Linked DNA regions of Homo sapiens. The protein of the gene in region 2 purifies or fractionates together with the protein of the main gene of each other region. This does not show direct contact. Each region holds a gene or a part of one and is shown on either strand. Other genes may lie near its edges.

Region 1 (7,869 bases), on a different chromosome or scaffold from region 2:
GAGAGAACAATTATTGAGAAAAATGAAAACATAGGTAGAGTTCTACTGCCCTTTGGAACAATATCAAAGAGTCTAACATCCATGTAATAGAAATCTCAGAAGGAAAAGAGAATAGAGCAGAAAAGAAATATTTGAAGAAATAATGACTGAGATCACAGAACAGGCTAACTGTCTTTGGGTTGCTTTGCAATGAAATGCATGGTAAAATCACGCTCTGTCTTGTTCCGTAGCATTTCTTTTTTGGGGATTCAGGATCTAGTATGAAAAAGGGACCCTGAAGTTTTGGGGATCTGTTTTGCCTTCCAGCTCTGTATGCTTATTAGGCCCTAGAAACTGCACGTTTTCCTAGCCCTGTTCCTCCAAGGGCTCCACCTTGAAGCCAGTAATCCAATTAAGAAACAAAAACTGGCAAATGAAAAATCCTACAACTACTGGATCTTCTGTCTGTCTGTGTAGTTATATGTGTGTTATGTGTGTAATGTTTATATATGAAAGAGCTCTAATTAATGTTTTAAAAATAACAAGTGCTTAAATCAAATATTTTGTCAGAAAAATAAAAACTGTAATGCCTTTCAGTTGATGTTGTTACTGGTGGAAGGTATCCAAGTTACCAGCAGCGAATCTGCACTAGTCAGCACCAACCTCGATCCTTGCCTCCTCAGGAGAAACAATTCCACTGAGGGGCATAAGGCAGAAAAAGAGACCAAGGTAAGTTTCAGAGCAGGAGTGGAAGCTTATTTAAAAAGGCTTTAGAACAGGAAAGAAATGAAAGTATGCTTGGAAGAGACTCAAGCAGGCACGTGGGCACGTGAAGGTCAAGTGCAGTGTTGAACCTTGATCCTAGGACTTTATAGGCTGGCTCTTTTCCCATGATTCTTTCCTTAGGGTGAGCTGCCCGCATGCACAGTGCCCTCCCTATCCTTGGGAGGTGAGCACATGCAGTGTGTTTAGGAAGTTGTACACATGCCCACCCAAGGCTTTCTTCCCTTTTCCCATGGAGTGCCACGGAAAGGTCATACTCTGCCGTTTTGTCTCTTAATGCATTTGCCTGGGAAGTTGCATCTCCCTGGCATCTGCATTCAATTAACACTTTAGTGCAATAGGTGTGGACCATCAGGAAATGGCGTCTCCCTGACCCTAGGTGCCAATGTATGACTTTTAGAGAGGCAATGTGATAACTGCTGAGCCATCACCCAACATTCCTGGTGGGTGGGAGAAGAGCCCTTTCCTGCCCTGCTCATGCTGTCTAATGGCCTGTGACAGCATGACTTTAGTAGGCTTTGGGAAATCAAGAGTTTTGAAGATTATTGGTAAAATAAAGACATTTGGTTGAAATTAGGTCAGACATTAGGTTTGCTAAATGCTTTAAGGTAATAAACTGCTTCTAAAAAAAAAAAGAATGACATTTCTCCAAATTTTGTGGAAAACATAAATCTACAGATTCAAGAAGTAAAGCAAAACCTAAGCAAGATATTTGTAAAGAAAATCATACCAAAAACATCATGGTCAAACTATTGAAAATCAAAGAACCAAAGAACCAGAGAAAATCTTAAAGGCAGCTAGAGAAAATGACATAGCACAAGTCGGGTGTGTAAGTGAAGGGTTATGATTCAAAAACAATGAAGGCAAGAGGACAATAGAATGACATATTTACAGTTGAACTTAGATGGGTAAGGATAGCAATATCAACCCAGAAGTCTGTATCCAGAGGACATAGCATTTGAAAATGATGGTAAAATAAAGACAATTTCTAATAAATTAAAACTTAAATTTATCACCAGTGTATTAGTCTGTTTTCATGCTGCAGATGAGGACATACCTGAGACTGGGCAATTTACAAAAGAAAGAGGTTTACTGGACTTACAATTTCACATGGCTGGGGAGGCCTTGCAATTATGGGGGAAGGCAAAGAGGAGAAAGTCACATCTAACGTGGATGGGAGCGGGCAAGGAGAGCTTGGGCAGGGAAACTCCTGTTTTTCAAACCATCAGATCTCATGAGACTCACTTACCATCATGAAAACAGTATTGGAAAGATCTGCCCCCATGACTCAATCACCTCCCACCTCCCACCTCCCACAACACGTGGGAATTGAAGATGAGATTTGGTGGAGACACAGCCAAGCCATATTAATCAGCAAATCTGCATTATAAAATTTGTTTTTAATTCTTCAGAGGAAAGGGAAATGATACTAGATAGAAACTCTGATCTACAAAAAGGAAGGAAGAACACCGGAAGTTGTAACTATGTGGGTAATTTCTCTAAAAAAGCAATTAAGGCAAAAATTATTCACTGTATTTAAATATTTAGGTCTAGTATACATGACAGCAATAACATAAACGATGGGGCATAAATGGAATGACACTAAGTTCTTACCTCTTATGTCAAATAGTACAATATTGGCTCTTAGTACACTGAGATAATTTAAGGATGAGTATTGAAAACCCTAGTGTAAGCACTAAAAATTAATGTAAAGAAGTATAACAGAGGCCAGGCGTGGTGGCTCATGCCTGTAATCCTAGCACTTTGGGAGGCTCAGGTGGGTGGATCACAAGGTCAGGAGATCAAGAACATCTTGGCCAACATGGTGAAACCTCGTCTCTACTAAAAATACAAAAATTAGCTGGGCATGGTGGCATGTGCCTGTAGTCCCAGTTACTCAGAAGGCTGAGGCAGGAGAATAGCTTGAACCCAGGAGACAGAGGTTGCAGTGAGCCAAGATTGCACCACTGCACTCCTACCTGGGCAGCAAGAGTGAAACTCCATCTCAAAAAAAGAAAAAAAATAAGTATAACAGAAAGTCAATGGTGGAATGAAAATGAAATAATCAGAATTATTGAATTAATCCAAACGAAGGCAGGAAAGGAGGAACAGAGGAACCGAAAAGGTTAAAGCAAATAAAACCCAAATTGCAAAATAATAGATCTAAATCCAACCACATCATTATTACATTAAATGTAAATGGACCCCAAACTCCAATTAAAAGGCATTTACAGGCCAGGTGCAGTACCTCACACCTGTAATCCCAGCACTTTGGGAGGCCGAGGCGGGTGGATCATCTGAGGTCAGGAGTTCGAGACCAGCCTGGCCAATGTGGTGAAACCCTATCTCTACTAAAAAATACAAAAATTAGCCGTGCATGGTGGCAGGCACCTGTAATTACAGCTATTCTTTCTTTAAAGCGGAGAAGGCATCAGGGAAGAGGGTTGTAGGTGGTGAAGCAAATGGTTACATTTTTGCTAGACTTTAGGTAGTGCCCAGTAACTCTATGCTATGCATAAGATAAGGTGAATATTCAAAGAAAATGGAGTAAAGGAAGTTAATTATACAGATATCTCAGGTGAAGGAATGATTGATCTTATCCTTGTTCTGCATCTGGGAAGATAAGCTTGTAACTGAATTTATCCATGTGAAATTTAACAGACTTTAGTTGTACCAGTTTGATTTAGGTTGCAGACTTAAAGTTATACAATTGACACGTCCTTGTTTTATGGAAGGATATACATCTTGAAAGGTTTAAGGGCCAGTAAAGAATTTACTATGATTAATTTGTTGAGGACAGTCATCCTGAGACTGAGATGCATAAGGCTTTTTTTTGCATTTTGAGGAGGGTCTGGCTAACATATAAAGTTTTAATACAACTATGGGAAGTAACAGCTATCCATTTGGGAAAAGCATTGTAGTGTTGAGTGACTTCAGTCTCCAGGCTTAACTCTCCCTTTGACATAACAAGTTGGGGGTGGGGGGTGGTTCTGAGATTTTTATTTTCCTTTACAGGGTCAAAGAGGAAATCATAAAGGAAATTAAAAACTATTTTCAGCTGAAGGAAAACAAAAGCACAGTAGCAGGCCAGGCAAGGTGGCTTATGCTTGTAATCCCAGAATTTTGGGATGCTGAAGCAGGACGACTGCTTGAGACCAGGAGCTCAAGACCAATCTGGGCAACAGTGAGATCCCATCTCTACAAAAAATTTAAATTTAAAAATTAACAGGATGTGGTCGTGCACACCTGCAGTTCCAGCTACTGTGTCTTCTACAGTTTAAAGCTGAGAAGATCCCTTGAGCTTAGGAGGTTGAGACTGCAGTGAGCTATGATTGTGTCACTGCACTCCAGCCTGGATAACAAAGTGAGACCCTGTCTCAAAAATAACAACCACCAAGAAAAAAAAAAAGGAGAATTCAGCTAAAGCAGTGCTTAGAGGGCAATTTATAGCCTTAAAATACTAGCATTGGAAAAGCAGAAAGATCCAGAATCAATCATCTTCTACTCTAAGCAACTAGAAAAAGAAGAGGAAATCAAAACTCAAGTGAGCAATAAAGAGCAAAATAAGGCAATGGACCAGAAAACAGAAAATCAATGGAACCAAAACATGACATTTTGAAAAGATTTAAAAATTGATAAACTTCTAGCTAGATTAGTCAGAAAAAGAAAACATACAAACTGCCACTATCAAGAATATCTGAACAAAGACAAGGTCCCTGCCCTCCTGGACGTCTACTGGAGGAAAGAAATGTCATACAATTAAATCTATAGTTACAGATTATGGTAAACTCTGAGAGAGAATTCTGTCAGGGAGAAGCCGCTTTTGGTTGCAGGAGGGCACCTCTTTGAAAATTACTCACCTTCCCGCCCTCCACTGGGAGTAAAGCGAGCTGTGCCCAGCTTCTCCCCGCGCTCACGGAAGCAGGTGGCGGCCCCACCCCACCTGACCCCTCAAAAGCCCCGCCCCCTGTTCACTCCCACGTGCCCCGCTGCCGCCGCCGCCGCCGCCACGACCCTTCTGCGCAGGCGCGGGGGTGGTGCCTGGCGGAGGCGCGAGGTGGGGCGCGGCCGGCGGCGAGGCGGGACAACCGCTGGGCGGGCGCCAAGCGTGCCCGTGCGCTGGTGAGGTGGCGTCCGTTCTACCCGGTCGCTCCCGTTCCGCGCCATGCAGAGCCCAGTCTCTGGCACCTGGCTGCTCTGATCTGGTCTCAGCGCGGAGGGAGCAGAGGGAGTCCATGGAGGATCCCTCCGAGCCCGACCGGTTGGCGTCCGCGGACGGCGGGAGCCCGGAGGAGGAGGAGGATGGGGAGCGGGAGCCGCTGCTACCGCGGATCGCCTGGGCCCACCCGCGGAGAGGCGCCCCAGGCAGCGCCGTGAGGCTGCTGGACGCTGCCGGGGAGGAGGGCGAGGCCGGCGACGAGGAGCTGCCCCTCCCGCCCGGGGACGTGGGGGTCTCCCGGAGTTCGTCCGCCGAGCTGGACCGGAGCCGCCCCGCGGTTTCAGGTGCGACCCGGCCCTGCCCCACTCCCCGCGCCCCTCCGGGCGGCTGCCCCTGTCGCCCGGCTCGGTCCTGTCTCCCGCGCGCGCTGGCCGAGGTGGACGGGCTTTCCCCGCTCGCTGGGCAGCAGCTCCCGAGCTCGGACCGGCGCCAGCCGCAGCCGCACCGCGGGCACCTAGCTTGCTCGCTCTTTCTCCGGGAGCTCCCTCTCCTAAGGCCAGTGGTTGTCATTAAACCGATTCTTTAGACCTCCCCGCAAAGTGAGTCAAAACTTCTAGAAACCGACACTGGGGAGAGGTTAACGCTGTAAAATGACGTAAGTCCTTGCTCAAGTTTGGACTTGACTTTTGAATTAAGAACCTTGAACTCTCAGGAAAGTTCCCGGAGTGGTGAATTTGCAAAGTGGATGACAGGAGAGAGATGGACAGCCAGAATATCCAGTTGCCACTGGGGCACGTTTCAAAACCTTTTTCTATTAAATGTTGTTATTATGAAGTTAGCCACAGGGGGCAAAAGCAGTTGAAAGTCTGTTCCTGCCCTCTTACAGTTTAGTTTCTCTTTCTTGATTTACTTCTAATACATAAGAAAACCAAAACGAAAAACCTCTTTTCGCTATTAAGCGGACTGATAACCTCAGGCGAAACAGGGCAGTTGAAATGATGTTGAAGGTTAAATTTAGGTATGCTGTGCAGGCCTGGATATTTATTAATAAAGTGAGTTTTTCTGGCGTGTTGAATGGAGTTAGACAAATGTGATGGAAATAGCAAGAGACTTGTAAGACTCTCAGCTAGAGGTGAGACAGACTTGTTTGTAAAAAGGCGATGGTACACCTCCCTGCTGGTTGTGAGGATGGATTAAATGAGATGTTGTGCACCCGGTTGGTTTATCGCTTCACACATGACAACTTAAAAACCACAGAAAATGGAAGTTTCTTTAACACTGCTTAGTTTTTTTTGGAATTGTTAGATTTTAAATGTACTGTTAGTGGTACACTAATGTGTCCTTTACAGTTTAAAGAATTTTGGATAGAATCGGTCACTCAAGTTCTAGCTAGAGGCTACATTCAGGCATATTCTAGAGTAAATAAATCAGAGAATCCCAAGGGGAGCAGTTTGTCTGATTGTTTAAGCTTTAACCAACGTCTGCTCCCGTTATAATGTTACCTGATGGATGCATTGACGTTTAACCAAACAACGTGAAGCTGAAACCAGATCACAAACGGGTCTGCATTTGCCTAGCTACATTGGCAATTTGGGTATATGTTACTTAGAATTTAGTCTGTAAAATAGCTAGCTTGCCTTTTTCTGTCCCTTACCTTGTGTAAGCTACCTTGTGTACCTGGGTTTTTAAAAGAGCCTAAAGCCTTCAAAATGCACTTGTTCTGTGAAAGTGAGGTGTTTTATAAACAAACAGTATTAAGGCTAGAAAAAAATCAAAGCGAGAGGTCAACGAGATGGCAGGCCTGTAATCCCATCCCAGCATTTTGGGAGGTCTAGGCAGGAGAATAGCTTGAGGCTGGAAGTTCGAGACCCACCTGGGCAACATAGCGAGATCCCCATCTCTATAAAAAATAAACAACAACAACAACAAAAATTCAAAGTGAGGATAGAGTATAGTGTTAGAATACAAATGGATTCTTAGAATTCCTACCTTTTTTAAAGGTAATATCTTACCTGTATCACAGTTTACAATTTGCTAAGATCTTTTTTAAAAAAATATTTTATTCTCCACTGCACTCCAGCCTGGTTCTGTCTTGAGACAGAGCAAGACTCTGTCTCAAAAATAAATAAATAAATAAATAAATAAATAAATAAATAAATAAATAAATAAATTTTATTCTCTGTTGGGTGCCATGGCTCATGCCTGTAATCCCAGCATTTTGGAAGGCCTAGGTGGGTGGATCATTTGAGGTCAGGAGTTTTCAGACCAGCCTGGCCAACATGGTGAAACCCTGCCTCTACTAAAAATAGAAAAATTAGCCAGGCATGGTGGCGGGCGCCTGCAATTCCAGCTACTTGGGAGGCTGAGGCAGGAGAATCGCTTCTGAACCCGAGAGGTGTAGGTTGCAGTGAGCAGAGATGGCTCCACTGCACTCCAGCCTGGGTGACAGAGTGAGACTTTGTCTCAAAAAAAAAATTAATTATTTTCACAACAGCACAGCAAGTTAGTTGTTATTCGCCATTATTCTCATTATGAGGATTCAGAATTAATAAACTGGTAATGACTGGTAGCTCAGGTCTTCAGAGGTAAATGGTTTGCCCGAAGTCAAATATCCAGGAAGTAATAAATCAGGAGGAAGCCTGGTTCTTTCTTCATCTTCTGCCCCTTTTCCGTTTTGCCATGGGTCCACAAGTGTTATAAAATAATTGTGTCTGTGGTTATTTTGGAGGTTTTTACCTTTAATAGGACTTTAAAATAGTTTCTGTGAAAACTGTTTAAAAAATTTTTAAAGACTAAAATGTTCATGATTGAGTAATTTAATACTTTTTAAGTTTAGTTATTTTTTAAATGACTCCATTAACTTCATTTGTCCTTTACCATCCGATTTCCATGAAACTACCTCACTAGTTCCAAGAAATTCTTGCCTTTAGATTAATATGAACATCATT
Region 2 (6,897 bases):
ATATGTGTGCACTCCTACACAGGCACAACGGACATCCACATAGCCAGGCATCCAACTCCAGCCCACCCTTCACTCTCCTCCCTGCAGCCCACCAGTGAGGAGGACCTCTGCCCCATCTGCTATGCCCACCCCATCTCTGCTGTGTTCCAGCCCTGTGGCCACAAGTCCTGCAAGTAAGTGGGCCCCACAGCTTGGTGGTGGGGAGAGCAGTAGGTACATGCAGGGCAGTCCTCATCCCCTCCCCTGTTGTAGAGCCTGTATCAACCAGCACCTGATGAACAACAAGGACTGCTTCTTCTGCAAAACCACCATCGTGTCTGTAGAGGACTGGGAGAAGGGAGCCAATACGAGTACTACCTCCTCAGCTGCCTAGCCCTCACAGCCTGTGCCATCCTGGAACCTCCACCTTTGAACCCAGAGCCAGGCTGGGCCCTATTTATGAGCTCCCTTTGCCCTTCTCCTGTATCCCACACCACCACATCCAACCTCCTTGCCTGCCTGTATCCTCATTGGTGGGAGCCCAGCCATGGCCCTAATTGTGCCTGAGCTTGACTTTCAGTCAGGGCCACAGTGAGCATTAAATTATTATTCCATACAGCCCTGGCCCTGGCCCTTCTTGAGGGAGTGGGGTTTGTGGGGTGTGCCCAGCAGGGATCCTGCCAGATGATGTCCACATGAGAAGGCAGGTGTCCAACAGCTTCAGCTTCACCCAGTGCCCCCCAGACAAATAATGACAAGTCCAGGGTCTTCTGATGTGTCAGGCCAGCACTCCCCTTGCTGATGGGAAAACCGGGGCTCGGCCAGCCCCACTGCATCCCCTCACATGATGATACGAGGCTCTGGCACTGACTCGCCAATAGACTTGTGGGGCAGCACGCTGGCTCCGTTGAGGTAGAGCTCATCATTAACTATGACGTCCTCACCCAGCACTGTCACGTTCTCCATGCGTACCTCCAGGAGAGGATAGGCCTTGTCAGGGAGGCAGGCACACTCCCCGCCCCTCTCCCCACCCAGCCCAGCCCACAGGCTTACCCACTGACCCACGCGGCAGCGCCAGCCCACAATGCAGGACTCAAGCCAGGAATGGGAACGGATCCGGGCATCCCGCAGCACCGTGCACCGCCGGATACACACACCATCTTCGACCACCACGCCAGGTCCCAGGCTCACATTGGGGCCAATGCTGCAGTTCTGGCCGATGCGGGCACTTGGGTCCTGAGAGCGGTGGGAAAAATACAAGTGGGCCACTTGTCTCCCAAGACTGAGGGGGTTAATGATGGGCTGGGCAAGGGCCTCACCACCAGCACGTTGCCCACAATGCCAGGGCCTGAGCACAGCCGCTCAGGCTGCTTCTGCCTCAGTGACTGCAGGAAGAGGCACATGCCAGTGAGGAAGTCCTTGGGCTGCCCAATGTCCATCCAGAAGCCTGTAGGGAGGGATGCATCAGGGGCCTCAGCCCAGCCACAGACCACCCCCACCCTGTGGCCTCCCTGCCTCACCCTGTAACTCCATGGCATATAGCTGCCCCTCCTTGGCCATAATGGGGAAGACCTCCTTCTCAATGGACGTAGGCTGCAGCTGTGGGAGTGGGCAGCTTGTGAGCAGGGTCATGGCGGTGATGGCCTGCCCCACCCCAGCCCACCAACAGCTGTCTCCTACACACCTGGATGCGCTGCAGCACTGCAGGGCTCAGGATGTACATGCCTGCGTTGATCTTATTGGACACAAACACCTGTGGCTTCTCCACGAACCGGTGAATGCGGCCTGTGTCAGCCTCACACACCACCACACCGTACTTGGAGGGTTCCTCCACCTTGGTCACCTGAATGCAAGGAAGGGGACCTCGGACCTAGTCCAGTGTTCCTAAGCCTTGATACACATGCCGTTCCAGATCTCAAGAGACTCTGCCCCAAGTGCTTAAAGATACATACTGCACAGCTCTGTATCCATAACATCCGAAGGCAGATGAAGGCTAGGGGGCATGGGAGGCTGGGCATGGAGGGTGAAAGTGTCAAGAGAGAGAAGACCTGGCGCCTTACCAGGATGGAGCCCTCCTGGCCATGGTGCCGGTGGAACTGCACCATGGCTTGGAAGGGGAAATCGCAGATCACGTCACTGTTGAGGACGAAGAAAGGGTCTGCAGTCTCAGAGAGTAGGTCACGGGCCAGCGCCAGGGGCCCAGCTGGGGGAAGGGGACAGGTCACCACCTTGCTGGAGGTCTGAGTCCCTGGATTCAGGCTCAGCAGGCCCACTCCAGGCTGGGTCTTACCCTTTTCCTGGCCTTAAACCCTCCCCCAAGGGACCTTTCTGCCTCTACTGACCTGTCCCCAAAGGCTCCTCTTCATGGGACATGGAGATTCGGATTCCCAGCTGGAAGGAAGAGGCCCCCCCAGTCAGGTTCTACCAGGATGGGAAGTTGGGCGGGGACCGAGAATAAGGGCCAAGAGTCTGTGCCTCACCCTCTGCTCCTGTGCCTTCATTTCCTTCTCCAGCACCTGCGACATGTAGCTCACGGCCAGGATCACGTGGTCCACGCCTGCCTGTCAGAACGCAGGCCGACGGGCGGGCTCAGTCAGAAGGTACGGGAGCCCCTGACCCCTAGTCGCTGGCCATCCCTAGTCCCGCCAGATCCGAACGCGACTCTGATCCCGACCCAGGGTCTTACCGCGGCTAGCGCCTCCACTTGGTGCAGCAAGATGGGCTTATTGCAGAAGTCCACCAGTGGCTTCGGGGTGCTCAGCGTCAGCGGCCGTAGCCGCGTCCCATAGCCCCCCACTAAGATCAGTGCCTTCATCGCGCCTGCGGACGTTGAGGGGGTGTCCCGGGCTCTGAGGTGCCTGCAGCCCGCCTGGCCGGTCCCTGCCGCGCACTCCCAACGCCGTGCCCGGCCCCGCGCCCTTCACCAACCCGCCTGACAGACTCTGGCTCCACCTCGTCCGCCCGGTCGCCCTGACGCCGGATCCAGGGCCGCCACAACACAGAACGCGACACCGGGTAGACGGCTGCTGGCCCCGAACTCAGGCCGGACCCGGCGCGGGCAGTGACGCGACCACCGCGGGCCAATCGGCTGCCGCGTACGTGGCACGGCCGCCGGCGTCGGAACGTTGGAGCGCAGCGCTGCGACAGACGTAGCCAATGAGCGCCCGAGTACGCCGGGCTGCCATGGAGACCCGGGCCGGGACCCGCGGGTCAGCTGGCCATTGGCGGATCCAAAGGCGGAACTGGCGCCAAGGGCGAGGCCTTGTTCCCTGCTTCGCCGCGGTCCAGCAGCCGCCGGCCCCGCCCCACGGCCCCGGCCTCGCCCCGAGGGTGACCAGGGAAGGCTCCCGGGCCACGGGATTTTCACAAAGACAGACTCGCCTCCGTTTCTAGCGGCTTTATTTTTGACATACACGACCTCAGACACAAGCGGGGCGGGCAGCGCTAGGTGTACAGAAAGGAGCGGGCTCGGACCGAGCACCCCCTCCCCCGCACGCAAGGTCCAAAGCAAACGCAACTGCGGCGGGAGCCACCGGCGCAGGCCTCGGGCGGTGGAGACAGGCTTAGCTTCCAGGAAAGAGCAGCAGAGAGCGATTCCCAGAACGCGAGGGCTTACAGTTCCCCGAGAAGCAAAAGAACCAGGTCCTTCCCAGGGTTCTCCATTATTTTTTCCTCATTAAAATATATTTTAAGTCAGCACAAACATAACCAAATTGTACAGCTTTAAAGTTCAAAGCAGTCTGCATCTAGGGAACGTGCATGTGGTCAGGAGTGAGCGCGTGAGCAGCGGCTACGTAACTAGCACAGGTGCCAGGCCCCTTGATGGGAATCCCCATGCTCACTGCACAGGCCCAGAGAGGGAGGGGTGGGGTCCCTGGCAAGTTGCTACACTGGTCCCCTTCCTCTTTTAAGCACCACCCGTCCCACCCCACCCTCAGGGGCTGGTGTCAGCTTGGCCCAGGGAAGCACTATAGAGAGGGCTCACCTGAGCACCCCAACCCATGATCCCATGTTGCACTTTGTTCCCAAGTTGGGGCTAAGAAGGCTGGGCCTGGCAGGGACAGGGCTCTCTGGCATGGGGCAGGGAGAAAGCAGTGGCAGACAGTATGCACACACACTTGCCCACTACCATTAAATAACAGGGCTGGGTCTCCAGGTGTCCAAAGTGCTGAAAAGAGGGGCCCTGCTCTAAGGGAGCAGCAGCAAATCCCAGGCCTTCCCACTCTTTGTAGTGCCAGGAAAATACTGAATGTAAGTGGGTGCAGCTTTGCTCGCTGTGAGGAGCAGCAGAATGCGGCAGCCTCTCCTCCCAGAATCGAGGAATCTGGGAGGCACAGGACATCCCCAAAAGGTCCCAAACAGTTCCAGACCCTATGTCTTACCCTCCACCCTACCAGGGAATGACTATCTACACTAATGAAGGGCTACTGCCCCCATGGCTGAAGCCACAGAATGGTACAGGAGAGAAGACTGTAATTTGTGACCAGAAACAGGCAAGCTGTCCCTCCCAGCCCCAAAGAATGGGAACCTGCCCACCAGTGGCACCAGGGCTGGGGGCTAGGAGAGATGGCATCCATCAAGGAGCCCTTAAGAGGCTGCATCTTTAAGGACCAGGAAATGAGTCCATCAGTTACCAAGGCTTCTCACAGCTGGCAGGCTTACCTTTAAAGCCAAACAGGCACTTGCCTAAAGTGACAATGAACAGTGTGGCCCTAGGCTCAAAGGAGAGGGTGCTAACCTTGGCAATGGCTGAAATCGGTGTCACCTCCTGGCCATCTGTTAGAAGCAGCAGATCTGTGCCATTAAGGGCTGGCAGCCAAAATGACTAAAACCATGAGAAAGGAAGGGTCACTCCTCAAGCCCTCACTGCCCCACTCTAAGGGTTGAGGGCCATATTCTAGGCCCACAGAAATGGTGCTGGGTCAACAGGGAAACACCAATTTATTCTGCTATCAGGTCTTTATAAAAAGGCAACACCTGTGGAGGAAGGGCATGGGGCAAAAGCTCACCTCAGAAGTGGAAGTGTTCTGCTGAGGAAAGCATGAAGGAATGAGTATATACTAATGAACAAGGCTACACCCCAGGGGAAGGATCCCAAGGGACGGGCTGGCAGCCGGACACATGGACAAACTGATGGACCCAGGACTGATCAGACAAAGCTCTCATTAGCAGAATGTGGGCACCTGCACCCAGGGCCCATACCACGTCCCTGTGAGCAAAAAAGCTTAAAGTTCTCCCTCCAGGCCCAGGGCCAAGAGCGCCTCACAAAGGGCTGCTGCCTTGAACTTGGCCTGGGGAAATGAGACCCTGAGCGGACCACAGCCCTTGAGCCCTGGGAGGAGCAGCCCATCCAGCAGCAGCACAGCTGCCGAAACTTGAGGAAGAAGACTCCCACCCATAGCACAAGAACTGCAAATACTGTCTGGGCCAGAGCCACCAGAGGCCCTGAGGCCTGCTAGGACACCGACTATCCCCCACTTCAGTGGGGTGGGAGGGAGTGGCCTTCTTAGGCAAGGGAACTTGGTGAGAGAGGCTGTTTCAGGAATAGGACAGGTGCCAACCTGTCACGTGCCAACAGGTGCCTGGGGAACCCAGGCGCCGCCCTCTGCCATAAGTTGGCCTCAGCCCAGCTTCATTAATCTAGCCCCATGCTAAGGTCAGACCGAAGGATGGGTCCAGCTTTGTGCAGTCAGCCCTGTGGTGCCCTGAGGGCACCTATTAAAGAGCTAGCTGACACCCACAGCATAAGACTGGAAAGCCCCCAAGAAATGGGCACCCAGAGCCCTCTACTTCTGGGGAACAAGGGAAGAGTGGGCGTGGAGGGGCCCTGCACCAGCCCAGGGCTTTACCTTACAATCAGCAGGGCCCTGCAGCCACAGATCTCAAAGATCTAGACAAGAGAAACCAATGTCCAAGGGCACCCTGTCCCTGCTGCCAAGCCCACCAGGGGCACCTCTTCCTTCCTAAGGCAGCCTGGACACACCAGTCAGAGCCACAAAGCTGAGGAGCCTGGCTGAGAGGGCGTGTGGTCTGCCCTCCTTCACTTTATATATATGGATTCCAGGCTACAGCTAAAAACATTTCTTTTAGTTTACACCAAAGAGAAATATAACCCTTTAAAAGCAAGTCTGTGTGTCCTCACGGCAAGTTCAGAACAATGGTCCCTGCCTGCAGTGGAGAGGAAGGGGTTCTGGGGGCCCAGAACAGGGCCTACTGGTTCTCGTCCCGCATCTGTTCCATGATGCTGATGAGGTTCTCCAGGCCAAACACGTAGCCTCTGTCTGGCCCATCATGCACGGTGGGGTCATCCCGGAAGCCCTTGAATGTGCTGTGTGCAAAGTCAATCATGCGGACATCCACCTTGGGCTGAGAGGAGGGACCCGCCTCGGGGCTGGTGTTGCTGGGGCTGGTGCTGGGGCCACAGGATGACGCCACCTCAGGGAGCACCATGTCCAGGTGCTTGAGACGCATCTCAGACCGGCGGTCCAGGCAGGACTCAGCCCGGCACTCCTTGCCATCATAGATGACAAGCAGGGAACTGGAGTAGAAGCGGTAAGAGGCCTGCCGCTCCAGCACAGCTTTCAGGCCCCGCAGTTTGCTCAGGATAGGCTCAAACAGGTCACGTCGCAGGTCCAGGCCATTGTGCAGATATTGATAGAGGGCATTGCGGAAGCCTTCAATGGAGAGCCCACGGCCATAGTACTTGTTCCTGCAGAGGTAATGCCCTGTGTCCAGCTGGTACACCTGAAACCCCAGGAGGCAGACAGGGTGAGTGCCAGGGAAGTCTGAAGAGCTCACAGTGCCCTGGGCAAACACTGTCTGGAAGGGACTTTGACCAACCTGAGCTTTTCTGCTCACCTATCTAAGTGGAACCAGGCAGGCCACATTCACCCTGGGTTTTCCCATTGCAGAACCAAG
Region 3 (7,019 bases), on a different chromosome or scaffold from region 2:
ATCCAGGACCCCTTGGATAATGTAGTGTGTGCAGTTCTCAGGCATGAGGCAGGAATCAGGAGCTGGCTCTCCTTAGAAATTTGCAGTCCTGGCATCAGTATTGTTCCTGTTTTCTCTGCTGAGAGGGTTTGTCTCTCTCTGGCTTTCTGTCTCGTTTATTTTTCTCCCCCATTAACTATTCTGAAGAGTAGTTATCATACCATATTCAGCTTTAGAAGGGAAGTGGTTTACTTTGCCAGGCCTAGAATCCCCTCCCTGCCCCCTCCTCTTGAGGCCACAAAGAACATATCAGGATAAGAGAGTCATTTCAACTAGTGGGTGTTTATTCATTTATTTATTTTAATTAATTAATTTTTTTTTTTTTTGAGACAAAGTCTCGCTCTGTCACCAGGCTGGAGTACAGTTGCATGATCTCGGCTCACTGCAACCTCCGCCTGCCAGGTTCAAGTGATTTTCCTGCCTCAGCCTCCCGAGTAGCTGGGACTACAGGCATGTGCCACCATGCCCAGCTAATTTTTGTATTTTTAGTAGAAACGGGGTTTCACCATGTTGGCCAGGATGGTCTCAATCTCTTGACCTCGTGGTCGGCCCACCTCGGCCTCCCAAAGTGCTGGGATTACAGGCGTGAGCCACCGTGCCTGGCCAACTAGTGGGTCTTTAAAAAAAAGAAAAAAGAAAAAAAGTTTGTATTTATTTACTTGTGGCCCTCAGATTGTATTTTTTCCATTGGCAGCTTAGATTTCCTCATGCTGCTAAGTATAGCTGTATTTTCCCTGAACTCTTTCTCTGATGGTCAGAAAACTGAGGCTGTTTGGCTTGTGCTTTCAGCTGGTGGAGGATGGGCTTGGAATTAGGGGTTACACATGTTTTTCTTAAATAAAGAAGAGAATGATGTCTTATAAGTTGGGCAGCCCCACACACGGTTTGCCCAGGGCAGTCTTGGTTTTCCCCTGTGTAATCATTAATAGCACCCCTTTTCATTCTCATAAGCGTCCCAGTTTGAACAATCAAATATATAGTCACCCACCACATAAGCCATGTTAAGGATCAGGGATACATGACCATGAAAAGACAGGGAGCTCCTTAAGATAGAAGTTAAGGTCTGTCTCAGAGCCACAAGTGCTAGAAGCTGGAGGTTTAGAGGAAGAGGATTTCTCTGGGCTGGGTGTTCAGGAAGGCTTCACAGAGAAAGACATTAGGTAGACTTGAACAACGGGGAGAAGTAAAGAAAGAAGATGGGAGATCACATCTTTACTATTTACAGCGTAGGCACTTATGGTACTATCTCATTTAATCCTCCTAACAACATCATGAAATTGGTTACGATATTATTCTCATTTTTTTTGTTTGTTTTTTTGAGATGGAGTCTCACACTGTCACCCAGGCTGGAGTGCAATGGTGGGATCTCGGCTCACTGCAACCTCCGCCTCCCGGGTTCAAGCAATTCTCCCTGCCTCAGCCTCTGGAGTAGCTGAGATTACAGGCACCTGCCACCACACCCGGCTAATTTTTGTGCTTTTTAGTTTCACCATGCTTGCCAGGCTGGTCTCGAACCCCTGACCTGAGGTGATTCGCCCACCTTGGCCTCCCAAAGTGCTGGGATCATAGGTGTGAGCCACCGCGCTCGGCCTATTCTCATTTTTATATGAGGAAAATGAGGCTTAGAGGGTCCAAAGTCCTGCAACAAGTAAGAAGCAGAGCTGGAATTCAACCCCAAAGTCTGTGATCTTTTCAAATAGTAGTTCTGCATTCAAACAGAGAACAAATAGTGCAAAGGGCAGAGCTGGGAATGTGCACATCATGGTTTGCGGGTGGTGAATAGTCCAGTCAGGCCGGGGTGACAGTGGGTGTTGACAGGGGAGAGGAATGCTGCTGCCTCCCTTGGTCACTCCAGTTCCAAGATTTGCTACAAGTCCCAAAGTATTCCTTTTGTATTCATTCCTTTTGGTTACTGTCTAGGTTTGGCTGAGCGCAAGGGGTTCATTGTTCACCTTCCTCTGTAGATGGTTTCTCCTGACTTCAGAACCATACCACTGTATTTGGTCCCTACTTTGTGCTTTTCTGCTTAGCATTCTCTTCATGGTAAGGATCTAACTGAACCTGATTCAGCTGCTGCTTGCAGTGAAGCAACACTGATGTAAATAAGCGTGGAAAGGTTCTCCAGCATCTCTTTGGACCCTGCAGTAGGTCTCTCCTGCTTGCTCTGCCTTTTCTCCACTGCTCTTATGTTTTTCCTCCAGTCAGGGCCATATGCCTCATGTTTATATAGTTTCCTCTCTAGAGAACACTCGCTCCCCCTAACTGCTTCAGTGAGCAAGTTATTTCTGCAGCCTCTTATCTCAAGTGCTTTGCTGTCACTTTGGTCCACAGCCATTTGGGCAGTTCTTGGTCTCCAGGAAACAGAGGTCTCTGGTATCAGGAGGAGGAATTACAAGTCAGAGGAGTTACTATAGGACTGGGGTATTGGGTAGAATTCTTACTGCTTTGGAAAAAAGTAAAGAATCCCCCTACCCCAGTGCTGTTCAGTATGAATGGGCCTTTGCTTCCACACTTTTTTTTTTTTTTGAGACAGAGTCTCGCTCGGTCACCCAGGCTGGAGTGCAGTGGCACGATCTTGGCTCACTGCAACCTCCGCCTCCCGGGTGCAAAAGATTCTCCTGCCTCAGCCTCCCGAGTAGCTGGGACTACAGGCACCCGCCACCACGCCTGGCTAATTTTTTGTATTTTTAGTAGAGACGGGGTTTCACCAGGTTAGCCAGGATAGTCTCGATCTCCTGACCTTGTAATCTGTCCGCCTCGGCCTCCCAAAGTGCTGGGATTACAGGCGTAAGCCACCGCGCCCGGCCTGCTTCCAAACTCTTGAAGTAGACTTAGAGAAATAGGCATGGGGAGGACCTCAGGGCAAACTTCTTTAGGGGCCCTTTGGGCAGAACCCGGACAGATAACCTCTGTCTTCTGTATTTCTCTCCAGGGATGGGAGTAGGAGATGGCGACGAGGGTGGTTTAAAAACAAAAACCTATCTCGTAACTGGATGGGGCAATTGATACCACCAGAAGTCTTCTAAAATTGCCCTTTTTGAGCTGTGGCTTTCCAGTGGGGGAAGAGAAGAGTGATAGCCTGTATAGGGAAGATGATTCTAGGTTTCCCTAGATTCCCTTTTTTTCTTAAAGTTACATTAGTTGATAACTATTCTTTGCTATGTGTTACTCCTCTGAACCTTCCCACTTTGCTAAACTCTTGAGTCTAGCAAATCTTCCCTGATTGAAGAAGTCAGACTATATGGATTTTCACCTTCTTGTAACCCAGTAGTTCTCAACTGGGGGCAGTTTTGCCCCCCAGGGAACATTCAGCAAGTCTGGAGACATTTTTGTTTGTCACGACTTAGGGTGCTACTGGCATCCATGTGGGTAGAGGCTAGGGATCCTGCCAAATATCCTATAATGCACAGGACAGCCTCCACAAAAAAAGAATTATCCGGCTGGGCATGGTGGCTCATGCCTGTAATCCAAGCATTTTGGGAGGCCGAGGCAGCTGTATCACTTGAGCCCAGGAGTTCGAGATCAGCATGGGCAACATGGTAAAACCCCATCTCTACAAAAAATGCAAAAATTTGGCTGGGCGTGGTGGCTCACGCCTGTAATCCCAACACTTGGGGAAGCTGAGGCGGGCGGATCACCTGAGGTCAGGAGTTCAAGACCAGCCTGGCCAACATGGTGAAACCCTGTCTCTACTAAAAAATACAAAAATTAGCTGGGTGTGGTGGCGCACGCCTGTAGTCTACTACAGCTACTCGGGAGGCTGAAGGGGGAGAATCACTTGAACCCAGGAGGCAGAGGTTGCAGTGAGCCCAGATTGCACCACTGCACTCCAGCCTGGGCGACAGAGTGAGACTCCATCTGAAAAAAAAAAAAAAAAACAAGGGCCGGGCACGGTGGCTCATGCCTGTAATCCCAGCACTTTGGGAGTCTGAGGCGGGCGGATCACGAGGTCAGGAGTTCAAGACCAGCCTGACCAACATGGTGAAACCCCGTCTCTACTAAAAATACAAAAATTAGCCGAGCATGGTGGCATGTGCCTGTAATCCCAGCTACTCAGGAGGCTGAGGCAAGAGAATCTCTTGAACCCAGGAGGTGGAGGTTACAGTGAGCCGAGATCACACCACTGTACTACAGCCTGGGCGACAGAGTGAGACTCCATCTCAAAAAAAAAAAAAAAAAAAAATTAGTCGGGCATGGTGGCGGGTGCCTGTAGTCCCAGCTACTCAGGAGGCTGAGATGGGAGGATCACCTGAGTCTGGGAGGTGGAGTCTGCAGTGAGCCGTGATTGCGCCATGCACTCCAGCCTGGGTTACAGAGTGAGACCCTGTCTCAAAAAGTAAAAGTTAAAAAAAGAAAAAGAATTATCTAGTCCAAAATACCAGTCATGCTGAAATTGAGAAACCCTGCTATATTTAGTGTGTCTCATTTTGTCTGTCTCATCCCATCCTCTCTCAGAACCAGGCTGAGATAGAAGTTCAAAAGTAAACTGGTGGGCTGGGCATGGTGGCTCACACCAACATTTTGGGAGGCTGAGGTGGGCGGATCACTGGAGGTCAGGAGTTCACGACCAGCCTGGCCAACATGGCAAAACCCCATCTCTACCAAAAATACAAGAATTAGCCGGGCATCATGGCGCATGCCTATAGTCCCAGGTACTCAGGAGGATGGTGCAGGAGAATTGCTTGAACCCAGGAGGTGGAGGTTGCCGTGAGCCAAGATAGTGACACTGCACTCCAGCCTGGGCAACAAAGTAAGACCCTGTCTCAAAAAAAAAAAGTAAGCAGGTAAGACAGAAGTATTGTGCCATATGCTGGGCCATAGGCTTTCTGGTCTCATTCCACCCAGCAGAATGCTTATACCTGGAATGAAATGATATAAGTACCTGCCTCATTGGGTTAAAGATTAAATGATTGATTAATGCATGAAAAAATATGAGAATAATGCCTGGCACATTCAATAAATGCTTAAAACCAAACAAAACCCAAGACCCTGTCACCCCGATTTTGGGCACTCCAGTTTTAGTATATTTTATTTTATTTATTTATTTGAGATGGAGTTTCGCTCTTGTTGCCCAGGCTGGAGTGCAAAGGCGCAATCTCGGCTCACTGCAACCTCCGTCTGCCGGGTTGAAGCAATTCTCCTGTCTCAGCCTCCTGAGTAGCTGGGATTACAGGCGCATACCACCATGCCTGGCTAATTTTTGTATTTTTAGTAGAGATGGGGTTTCATCATATTGGTTAGGTTGGTCTCAAACTCCTAACCTTAGGTGATCCGCCCGCCTCAGCCTCTCAAAGTGTTGGGATTACAGGCGCCAGCCACCACGCCCAGCCCTGGACTAGATCTTACTTTTAACCTTTATTCTCAAAGCCTCTTCACCTGCAATCATGATTTAGAAGTGTAAGCATTCGGCCGAGCACGGTGGCTCACGCCTGTAATCCCAGCACTTTGGGAGGCCAAGGCGGGCGGATCACCTGAGGTCGGGAGTTCGAGACCAGCCTGACCAACATGGAGAAACCCCATCTCTACTAAAAATACAAAATTAGCTAGGTGTGGTGGCGCATTCCTGTAATCCCAGCTACTTGTGAGGCTGAGGCATGAGAATCTGGTCAAAACTCCATCTCAAAAAAAAAAAAAAAAAAGTATAAGCATTCTTTTACCTATTATGAAAATGGGAAGAAAATAATCAACCAGGGTTGATATGCCCAAGAGCATGCCTTGAATGTATCAGCTACCCCAAATTCCCTTTTTTGACTGTTTGAGTGCCCAAAGAAGATAAGAAATCCGAAGTTTATTTACTGCTCTATAAGTTAACATTGAAGGAGATAGGAGGAAAGAACACTTTTCTACAAACTGGATATAGGTAGAATGCTATAAGCTTAGCTGAAACACTTATGCCATCTATGGAATGAGGACCCATTAGATTATTTGACCTACCTCCTCTGTGAAGATCAATGAGAGGAAGTGTGTGAAGCCCTACATGAGTATAAGGTAGATGGAGAGGCCAGGCACAGTGGCTCATACCTGTTATCCCAGCACTTTGGATCTCGAGCCCAGGAGTTTGAGACCAGCCTGTGCAACATGGCAAAATCCCGTCTCTACAAAAAAATACAAAAAATTAGCTGGGCATGGTGGCGCTTTCCTGTAGTTCCAGCTACTCAGGAGGATCGACTGAACCTAGTAGGAGGTTGAGGCTGCAGGGAGTTGTGATCACGCTACTGCATTCCAGCCTGGGCGACAGAGTGAGACCTGTCTCAAAAATATATATATTATTTAAAAAAAAAAGATAAGTGGAAATGAATAGAGATACTTTTGTTAGTTTCCCATTTTCCTTTCTCTCCAGGAGTCCCGACCTCTACATGTTGTGCTGGGAAATGAAGCCTGTGATTTGGACTCCACAGTGTCTGCTCTTGCCCTGGCTTTTTACCTAGCAAAGGTGGGTAAAAAAACGTAGTACCTAGGATCTGAGTCCCTCAGAACGAAAAGATCTGGATTCAAGACCCAGCTCTACCACTTACCAGCATTTAGCATTGGGTAAATTAAATCCCTTAACTTTGCTGAGTCTCATGCCACCATCCATAAAAACTAAAATGATATTTTGCAGTGTTGCTGTGAGGAAAAAAGTGAGCAAATATATTTCGAGGGATATGTAAACCATAAAGCAATATTCAAACAGTTTATTACTGAGTTCCGTATAGGTATCAGTGATCTAGTGTGTATTCCTCTGCCCAGGTTAGTTCTTGAGGACTAAAAATTCCTTCTCTGCAGCATTGCATCTAGAAATAGGTATTTACCATGAGTTACCTTGTTGACTTTCATGTTATTACTAAGAAGGAGGGAGGGCAAAAGTCATCCTTTCATTTTTATAGACTGGGTACTTATGGCTTTGAGAAAGGTGGTAACTTACCTAAGTATGTCTCCTTTGGTCCCAGTAGTCTTGTTACTTTTTCCTGTCATTATAAAACCTTGTGATACCTTCTTTT

The links. Proteins that work in one complex are often made in the same cells at the same time.
Region 1: the proteins of GMPPB (region 2) and PI4K2B purify together in Homo sapiens (affinity purification with mass spectrometry; 3 studies listed by BioGRID and IntAct, with this or other methods). This does not show direct contact.
Region 3: the proteins of GMPPB (region 2) and PRUNE1 purify together in Homo sapiens (affinity purification with mass spectrometry; 3 studies listed by BioGRID and IntAct, with this or other methods). This does not show direct contact.

The regions. Positions count from the first base shown.
Region 1 is NC_000004.12:25,229,167-25,237,035, forward strand, and holds the start of PI4K2B (phosphatidylinositol 4-kinase type 2-beta), read left to right. Parts: upstream 1-4,866; 5' UTR 4,867-4,997; coding exon 4,998-5,265; intron 5,266-5,397; exon of another isoform or gene 5,398-5,576; intron 5,577-7,869. UniProt on the Homo sapiens protein: Together with PI4K2A and the type III PI4Ks (PIK4CA and PIK4CB) it contributes to the overall PI4-kinase activity of the cell. This contribution may be especially significant in plasma membrane, endosomal and Golgi compartments.
Region 2 is NC_000003.12:49,720,933-49,727,829, forward strand, and holds the start of GMPPB (mannose-1-phosphate guanylyltransferase catalytic subunit beta), read right to left. Parts: upstream 3,020-6,897; 5' UTR 2,795-3,019; coding exon 2,666-2,794; intron 2,541-2,665; coding exon 2,460-2,540; intron 2,371-2,459; coding exon 2,322-2,370; intron 2,183-2,321; coding exon 2,040-2,182; intron 1,823-2,039; coding exon 1,664-1,822; intron 1,579-1,663; coding exon 1,500-1,578; intron 1,427-1,499; coding exon 1,299-1,426; intron 1,216-1,298; coding exon 1,033-1,215; coding exon of another isoform or gene 952-1,032; coding exon 820-951; 3' UTR 374-819; coding exon of another isoform or gene 253-373; 3' UTR 174-252; coding exon of another isoform or gene 88-173; 3' UTR 1-87. Other genes in the region: E3 ubiquitin-protein ligase RNF123, read left to right, coding at 88-173, 253-373; IP6K1 (inositol hexakisphosphate kinase 1), read right to left, coding at 6,190-6,723. UniProt on the Homo sapiens protein: Catalytic subunit of the GMPPA-GMPPB mannose-1-phosphate guanylyltransferase complex. Catalyzes the formation of GDP-mannose, an essential precursor of glycan moieties of glycoproteins and glycolipids. Can catalyze the reverse reaction in vitro.
Region 3 is NC_000001.11:151,011,433-151,018,451, forward strand, and holds part of PRUNE1 (exopolyphosphatase PRUNE1), read left to right. Parts: intron 1-6,379; coding exon 6,380-6,472; intron 6,473-7,019. UniProt on the Homo sapiens protein: Phosphodiesterase (PDE) that has higher activity toward cAMP than cGMP, as substrate. Plays a role in cell proliferation, migration and differentiation, and acts as a negative regulator of NME1. Plays a role in the regulation of neurogenesis.